Regions from separate parts of the Homo sapiens genome. Here all the other regions are linked to region 2. Evidence: fine-mapped expression QTL. A gene starts in region 2. Each other region holds a variant in brackets. All regions are shown on one strand. Distances are between the middles of the regions. Region 1 overlaps CCDC77 (coiled-coil domain containing 77). Region 2 holds the start of SLC6A13 (solute carrier family 6 member 13). Region 3 holds the start of SLC6A12 (solute carrier family 6 member 12).

Region 1 (2,758 bases), 150 kb before region 2:
TTGCAGTGAGTCGAGATCATGCCATTGCACTCCAGCCTGGCGACAGAGCGAGACTCTATCTCAAAAAAAAAAAACAAATTGAAAGTTTGATATTACAGGATAGTAAATAATTTTATTAATTATCTTCCAAGTACTAATGGTTTAAAGCTGGATTCAAAATACATGTTAGAGCCAGGAATGGTGGCACAGCTGAGTAGCTGAGCAGTCCCAGCTACTCAGGGGGCTGAGGTGGGAGGATCGCTTGAGCCTAGGAGTTCCAGTCCAGCCTGGGCAACATAGCAACACCTTGTCTCTAAAGTAAAAATAAAATCCATTAGAGACGAAAAAGATAATTTAAAAAAACAGAATATAAACTAAGGGAGACCATGTAGTAACAATTAGAAAATGTAGTACCATAAGACATATTGCAGGCCGGGTGCAGTGGCTCATGCCTGTAATCCGACCACTTTGGGAGGCCAAGGCGGGCAAATTAGTTGAGGTCAGGAGTTCAAGACCAGCCTGGCCAACATAGTGAAACCTAGTCTCTACCAAAAATACAAAAATTAGCCGGGCCTGGTGGCACGCGTGTGTAATCCCAGCTACTCTGGAGGCTGAGGCAGAATAATTGCTTGAACGCAGGAGGCAGGTTCAAGTGCCGAGATCACGCCACTCCAGACCAGCCTGGCCAACATAGCGGAACCTAGTTTCTACCAAAAATACAAAAATTAGCCTGTAATCCCACCACTTTGGGAGGCCAAGGTGGGCAGATTACTTGAGGTCAGGAGTTCAAGACCAACCTGGCCAACACAGCAAAACCTAGTCTCTACCGAAAATACAAAAATCAGCCGGGCCTGGTGGCACGCGTGTGTAATCCCAGCTACTCGGGAGGCTGAGGCAGGAGAATCACTTGAATCTGGGAGGCAGACGTTGCGGTGAGCCAAGATCATGCCATTGCACTCCAGCCTGGGCAACAAGAGCAAAACTCCATCTCAAAAAACAAAAAAAAAACAAAAATAGTACAGAAGAAGAGAAACCCTCCTGTGAAAATAAATCCAATTTGGTTGTCTGCAATTTATAACATAACAAAATAGTACAGTGGAGAAACTATACCAGAAGCTCTGAGTTATAGTTAATATATGTGCTCACTTGTAATAAATAAGCATGCAGAGATATTAAAATCTGTCAACTAGCATGAAGAAAAACTTAAACATTTTCCCAGTGATTAAAAACTTGTGAGAGAAATACTAGTTTACTTAACATTTCTTTTTTTTTTTTTTTGAGATGGAGTCTTGCTCTGTTGCCCAGGCTGGAGTGCAGTGGCGTGATCTGAGCTCACTGCAACCTCCACCAACTGGGTTCAAGCAATTCTCCTGCCTCCGCCTCCCAAGTAGCTGAGATTACAGGTGCACACCACCATGCCCAGTTAATTTTTTTTTTTTTTTTTAGTAGAGACGGAGTTTCACCATGTTGGCCAGGCTGGTCTCAAACGCCTGACCTTGTGACCTGCCCACCTCAGCCTCCCAAAGTGCTGGGATTACAGGAGTGAGCCACCGTGCCCGGCCAACATTTCATATTTTCTAAAGGGGATGTCTCAGGCTGGGCACAGTGGCTTATGCCTGTAATCACAGCACTCTGGGAGGCTGAGG[T/C]GGGAGGATTGCTTGAGTGCAGGAGGTCAAGGCTGCAATGAGCAATGATTGCACCACTGCACCCCATCCTGGGCACAGAGTGAAACTCTGTCTCAAAGAAAAAAAACTTTAGGAAATATGTTTCCAATACCTTTCCAGTTCCTATGCTTAGACTAAGGCTATACAAGTCTCGATTTCTTAACAACTTGAAAATAAGCAAATGTCTTACTTTCTGCAGACAGGGGTGTGTGTTGGGGTAAAGTTCATGCTGTCTTTTTCACACCTATCAAATACACAAAAATTCATAATTACGGGCCACGAATAGAAAAATAAAAACAGTACAGGATTAGACTGGTTCCCTCTTCAACATCATCATATTTGCTTCTTGGAAAGAATCTGATGTTTTAAAATGTAGTTTTTTTTTTCTTTTTTTTTTTTTTGAGACAGTGTCTCACTCTGTTGCCCAGGCTGGAGCTGGAGTGCAGTGGTGTGATCTCGGCTCACTGCAACCTCTGCCTTCTGGGTTCAAGCGATTCTCCTGCCTCAGCCTTCCAAGTAGCTGGGACTACAGGTGTGCACCACTACGCCTGGCGAATTTTTGTTATTTTTAGTAGAGACAGGGTTTCACCATATTGGCCAGGCTGGTCTCGAACTCCTGACCTTGTGATCCACCTGCCTCGGCCTCCCAAAGTGCTGGGATTACAGGCGTGAGCCACCACGCCCGGCCTAAAATGTAGTATTCTTTAAAGTATCTCCAAATCCTGAAATTCATGCCTTTTGAATTTTCAAAAGGTACTCCTCATAATTATTTTCAAATAAAAATCAGAATGGCATTGAATATTTAAATGGATAAGCACACAAAGTAGAAAAGTCTCCTTGTTATCTGCAACAACACAAAAACAAATCTACAATCTTTTCCTTGAAGTTATAGGATAGGAGGAGAAGATGCAGAAAAGTCTCTAATAAGCAAGAAACAGTACATAGAGCGAGGTGCAGTGGCCCGTACCTATAGTCCCTGCTACTCAGGAGGCTGAGGAGGGAGGATCCCTTGAGCCCAGGAGTTCAAGGCCAGCCTCACCAACATATTGACTTCCCCTGCCCCCACTCCCCTCTCCAAAAGCAGAAGTAGTAAATAGAAATTAAGGCAGAGTACC
Region 2 (2,758 bases):
GGCTCACTGCTCACTGTGAATAATCCCTTAAGGATGAATAACAGCTGCCATTTACAGTTAGTCATCATCTCCTGAAATCTCAAGCTAGACAGTGGCATACGTAGGACTCAGACCCCACACTCTCTGGTGTCAAAGTCTGAGCAGGTTTCCACTACATGTACTGTGCTTCAGCACATGGCTGAGGTGGGACTCTGCCCTGTCCTAGACTCCAGGCTGAATGAACTACTCTCACAGCCGCCTCTGTGGGCTGTTCCTGCAGAGAAACGAAGCTCCCTGGATGACCTCGGCCTCGCGCTCACCGCCTGCTCCTTCCCTTATAACAGCTTTAGGGCTTTGCTTTATTTTAAACGTTGGCACTTCCTTTTCTCTATTGATTTAAAAAATATTTTAAAATTCTAGCATATTAAAAAATCTAAACAATATTGAAAAAGTGGGGAAAAAATCTCCCTTACTGCCATCTCCTGATCTCAGTTCCACTCTACAAATGTAACTACTATTAATCATTTAGCGAAGATTTTTTCAGACTTTTTCTATATGTGTATAAATGTCTGTGTATGTTTGGGAAGTTTTTCTGACATCTCAGAGTTCTGTATCTATGTATCTTTGTTCTAAATCATCGTCCATTCCACATTGCAAGCTGCGAAACGGTAAGATAAATGTATTTTTAAATTAATCTACACAGCACCTGACCAAAGGAATACCTATTCTTGATGGATTTATAGGAGCACTTGTGTTGGAGACAGGGGTGGGAGGCAGGATCCCTCCAGAGAGACCCTGAGCTCACCAGGTGGGAAGCGCACATGAGCTCCGGGGAGGAGACCACACTTCATAAGCTCACCAGCAACTGGCCCGACCTGCCAGGGCGTGCACACTCCCCAGACTGCGAAATCACTCATGTGTGGGTTGTCCAGTGGCCGAGGGGAGGGGAGGGGAGAAAAGGGGAGGGGGAGGCACAAGGGTGGAATGTGGGCTGGGCCAAGTTTAGAATTTCAAGTGCCACAGAGGCGTTCTGGAACCACACTTTAAATAGCCAGCACCTTCTCCTTCCCCCTTAGATAATTCTTCTCCCCTGACTGGACCTCTGGCAGCAGCTTCACTAAGGTTCGAAATGTTTTCTTCTCTTTTTTTTCTATTTCTGCGTCTCAGACTGCAGGTTGGTGGGATCCATGGGACTTACAACCAAAGGACTTTTTTCTTACCCTCGCCTAGAAAGTACGCTTCTGACATGTATGTGTGCAAATGCAAAGATTATGTGCTATTTTCTTGACTTTCTGAAACTTGGGTGGCTGTTGACTTAAGTGACACTGTGATTTGGAAAGAGAGAGCCCTAGATTGAGAGGAAAGACAACTGGATTTAACTCCAAGAAAACAAAGTCTTTCTTCTCTGAGAAAAGAGAACAATGATCAACTCTGACAGGACTGAAAGAAAACAAAAATTTGAGTACCTGTTATTCTATTAAGTGTGTATACATATGTATATTTCCTCATTTAATTCTTATAGCTAAGTATATCCTATCTATCATCCCCACTTTTACAGATGAACAAACTAAGGCTCAGAGTCATTCATTAACTTCTCTGAAGTCAGACATTGGTATGAGAAAAAACTAATGTTTGAACCTGGCCTCATCTGACTCTACAGCTCATGACCTTTCAGACACAACATGCTACCTCTGAGAAGCAGCTCTAATGAGGCTAAGGGAGCCAGGAGAAGGCTACTGTTTCTCCTAGGGTCTGGGAGGGTGGAGAAGGGAAGGCTTTCCATCACTGGGAGAGATCCATCAGCTGGTAAAGGGAGGGGAGGCCAGCACAGTCAGTACCTTAGACAACCTTCCCAAAAGGACTGAGGAGCCCTCTTGGGACCAGTTACTTGAGTTTCTCCTTTGTAGAAAGGAGCTCATTCCCTAATTTATCAGATAAACATAGATGCCTGCTGTTCCCTGACTTTTTTTTTTTTTCTTTTTTTTGAGACAGAGTCTCGCTTTGTTGCCCAGACTGGAGTGCAGTGGCGCGATCTCGGCTCACTGCAACCTCTGCCTCCTGGTTTCAAGCGATTCTCCTGCCTCAGCCTCCTGAGTAGCTGGGATTACAGGTGCCTGCCACCATGCCCAGCTAATTTTTGTACTTTTCGTAGAGACGGGGTGTCACCATGTTGGCCAGGCTGGTCTCAAACTCCTGACCTCAGGAGATCCACCCGCCTCGGCCTCCCAAGTGCTGGGATTACAGGCGTGAGCCATTGCACCCGGCCTGTTCACTGACTTTCTAATTTTCTGGGTCAGAGCCAAAGTAGAGTCTGTGGCCAGAAGAGGTTACTGCTGAGAAAGTTCTGTTAACATGAACTTTGCTTGAGGCTTAGAAAAAAGTCCATCTGCCTCCTTCTCCAGAAAAGAGGCCACTCTGCAAAATCAAGGCAGAGTCATTAGAAGATGCTTTTAGTAGACACACCAGTGAACCTAGGCAGCCAATGTAATCAAAGGGATGGAACTGAAAGAGCAGGGGCAGAGTGGGTTTAAGTCCTGGCTGTGCAAGTTAGTAGCTATATGGCAGCAGCAGTCACATTATTTAACCTCTCTGAGCTGCAACTTCCTTATTTATAAAGTGGAGGTAATAATGCTTACATCTCAGGGTTGTTGTGAGAATTAAATGAAAAGAATGTATGTGAAGTGCCTAGTCTATAGTAGTTGCTAACTAAATGTGGGCCACGTCCAGTCATCCTCAATCCCAACAGTGGTCTGGAATGGGCCATTTCTGACAGTGAATG
Region 3 (2,758 bases), 49 kb after region 2:
GAGGAGGAGAAGAAACTCAGGTCTGTCTGGTCCCAATCCTGGGTCCTCTCTACATTGCTTCTTGAGGTACGCTCTGGGTGCTTTCTCTAGGAAAATCCCAAGGAGAAGGGTTGTGAAGGTCCAGGGCCTTGCCTAGAAGCCACAGAGGGCAGGTACTTGGTGGAAAACTCCAGCGTGTGATTCACCCTCCTCCCTTGCCCTCGTCAGTGAGGTCACCTCCCCTCCCAAGGTTCTCAGTTTATAGCCTGGAGTCTCTGGTAAGAGAGGGCTGTCCCCTGTGCTGCACATACCCGTCTCCTCATCCCTGGGAAGGAGATGGTTCTGGAGGGGGATAGGGGAAAAGGGGGAAGGGGGAAGGGCAAGGAGGAGGAGGAGGGGAGATGAGGTCAGGGTGTGAGTCTCTGAGCCCCTTCCCCTGCCCAAGGGAGCAGCAGCTCAGCCCAGCTCTGGAGGGGCCATCATGGGACTGTGCCCACGGGGAGGGCACCGGTCTGGAGACAGTGGGTTCACAGTGGGAGTGGGATGGGGGTGGGAGCGCTGGGGACAGAGGACTTGACTTCCTGAGGTTGGATGTTGTAATCTCGGTTCACAAACTTTTGGCCTCAGTCCCTCCTGCTGCTCCTGGTATTTCTCTGTCCTTTCACTCCCCAACACACACAGCCCCCGCCCCAACACATACACACACGGCTTCTTTCTGTCTGGGAGTCCCTGGACAAGTCACATGGGATTCTGCGCTGGGAGGAACAGGGTAAGGCGTGAACGTGGAGGGCAGTTTCCCTTTCAGGTCCCGGCTCTCTTGGCTTTCCCATAAGCAGCTGCCTTGGGACTCTCCTGGAGACCTGATGCCCACAGCCAAGCTGACCACAGGAGCCGGTGCTGGGGACTGAGGTGAGCGGGAAGTGGAGGGGCTGGCTCTGTCTTTGCAGTCTCCAACTGCTGCTCAGAGGGGCTGGAGGGATAGAGCCCTGGGAAGCGAGACTCTGTGGAACTGCGTGTCTGCAGCGGGGGGCAGGACCTGCAATAACCTCAGGCCAAAGGGCAAGTCTGATGCCCACGACTCTCAGGACAAGGGGTGCCCCCTAGCTCCGCCCCATCCAGCGTGGGAGCAGCTCAGTGATTAGCCTGTGGAGCAGGAAAGTCCAGCGATGGGCAGCTGGTCACGGCAGTGGGTGAAAGCAGGGGTGGTCATCTGACGAGGGGAGGGGAAGCAGGTGGTGCCCAGCAAGGTGGAAGGAGAAGTGGACAGGAGAAACCTCGGGGCATTCCCGAGGGCCCAGGAACTGCAATAAATGATCACAGGTGAGGGGTTCCTGCCCGCTGCCTGCCGGCTGAGCGTGA[C/T]GAGCTGGGTGCCAGGCGCCTCCCAGGAGGAAGCTGTCTTGGCTTTGGGCGGTGGATGCTATGGGTGTGCTTGTACCCGAGGGGGGCACTCAGGGGAGTTGCAGGCAGCCACCAGCTGAGACCGGCACTCACGGGGTGTGAAGGACTACAGAGAGAGCCAGGTTTTGGTGCCATGCACACAGGTATGTGTGTGCGAAGGGACGTGACGGGAAATGGCACCAGTGTGTGTATGGGAATGGGTGTTGGTATGTGGGTGTGGACTGAAGCAGGGGCTGGGTGTCCCATCCCCCCGTGTGCAGGGTCTGAGCTATTCCTATGCTGGACTGGGGAGCAAAGGGGACAGAGCTGGGATCCCAGCAGCACATGGGCAGCAGCATTTCTGGTCTCGTCTGCACCTCTGCTAGCCCCAGCTGGGCCTCTGGCGACATGCCCAGCTCCTGAAAACAGACTTAACTTTGGACTTTCTAGTCTCTTGAAGATTTGCTCTCTGGGCAGCACCAAGCCCGGTGTGGAAATTGGTGTGTTTGCTTCTGGAGGGCACTGAAGTATGATGAGGCCCATCCCCCACCCCTCACCCCCCTGTCCCGGCTTAGCAAAGCAGGTGGGCGGCCTTGGAGGAGACTCGAGGGGCTGGAGAGGCGGCCAGCCGAAGCTGGAGGTGGAAGGGCACAGCGGGGGTGGGGTGTGTAGTCCTTTGCCTTTTAAAAGTAGCCCAGAAAGGAGAACTCAGTACAGCTTGTTTTGGTGTCTAACATCCTCTGGGCCATTTCTTCCCTGAGTCTAACTTAAATCCCTCTTGCTGCAGTTTAAGCGTGTTCCCTCTTGAGTTACCACGGCTCGGGGCCAGCTGTCCTTTTCACTTGCTCTTGCTTTCATTCTGCCGTTCTGGATTTTCATTCTGAACCACAAGTTACGCTCCTCCCGATTACTTTTTTATTTTCATTTTTATTTTTAAAAAATCATGTTGCGTCAGTGTCGGTTCACCAGCTCATGTTCTCTTTTTGCACTTCCCCTATTTCTGATGAAACCCAAATCCTGGGCCCAAACTGGATTCTGTGATTCGCTTCCCTGCCCCTGCGCCCCTCCGGCTTTCCCTTCATTTACTCCTTCCCCCAGCAAGCCTCCACTCTCCCAGCCCTTGAGACCACCTTGGTCCTGCCACAGCTGCCTGTGGTCTGGAAACAGTAAGGCTCATTTCTGACCACCGCCCTAAGGGCCCTTGTGCTTGGGGCTCGCCCTGGGATTAGCAACGCTATGGCCCGCGAGTAGAGGCGGTCAGTTCTCCGTCTCTTTATTGAGTCTTGTTTTTATCCCCTCACCCTCCGAAAACCCCTTTGAGCAGTGGTCTTTCTCTCTTCCAGGGAAACTTAGAGTTCAGAGAGGGGGTGTGATTTGCCTGAGGTCACACAGCAAGTTAGAG

Evidence for each region. PIP is the estimated chance that this variant, and not a neighbour inherited with it, causes the effect.
Region 1: its variant is the best candidate, but not a certain one, in a credible set for the expression of SLC6A13 in whole blood (TOPMed, PIP 0.62).
Region 3: its variant is the best candidate, but not a certain one, in a credible set for the expression of SLC6A13 in thyroid (GTEx, PIP 0.62).

Annotation. Positions count from the first base shown.
Region 1 is chr12:408,497-411,254 of GRCh38, reverse strand. It overlaps CCDC77 (coiled-coil domain containing 77), which reads right to left. Exons shown (of 13, transcript NM_032358.4): 3 at 1,834-1,887. The coding sequence starts at 1,871. Among named protein-coding and RNA genes, the nearest start is that of CCDC77, 8.2 kb to the right of the region's middle. The variant T/C (reference allele first, on the strand shown) is at 1,626.
Region 2 is chr12:261,132-263,889 of GRCh38, reverse strand. SLC6A13 (solute carrier family 6 member 13) reads left to right here and starts at 1,054. Exons shown (of 15, transcript NM_016615.5): 1 at 1,054-1,101.
Region 3 is chr12:212,052-214,809 of GRCh38, reverse strand. SLC6A12 (solute carrier family 6 member 12) reads left to right here and starts at 653. Exons shown (of 16, transcript NM_001122848.3): 1 at 653-888; 2 at 2,700-2,758. RefSeq lists enhancers at 772-1,543, 2,255-2,304, 2,316-2,758. The variant C/T (reference allele first, on the strand shown) is at 1,339.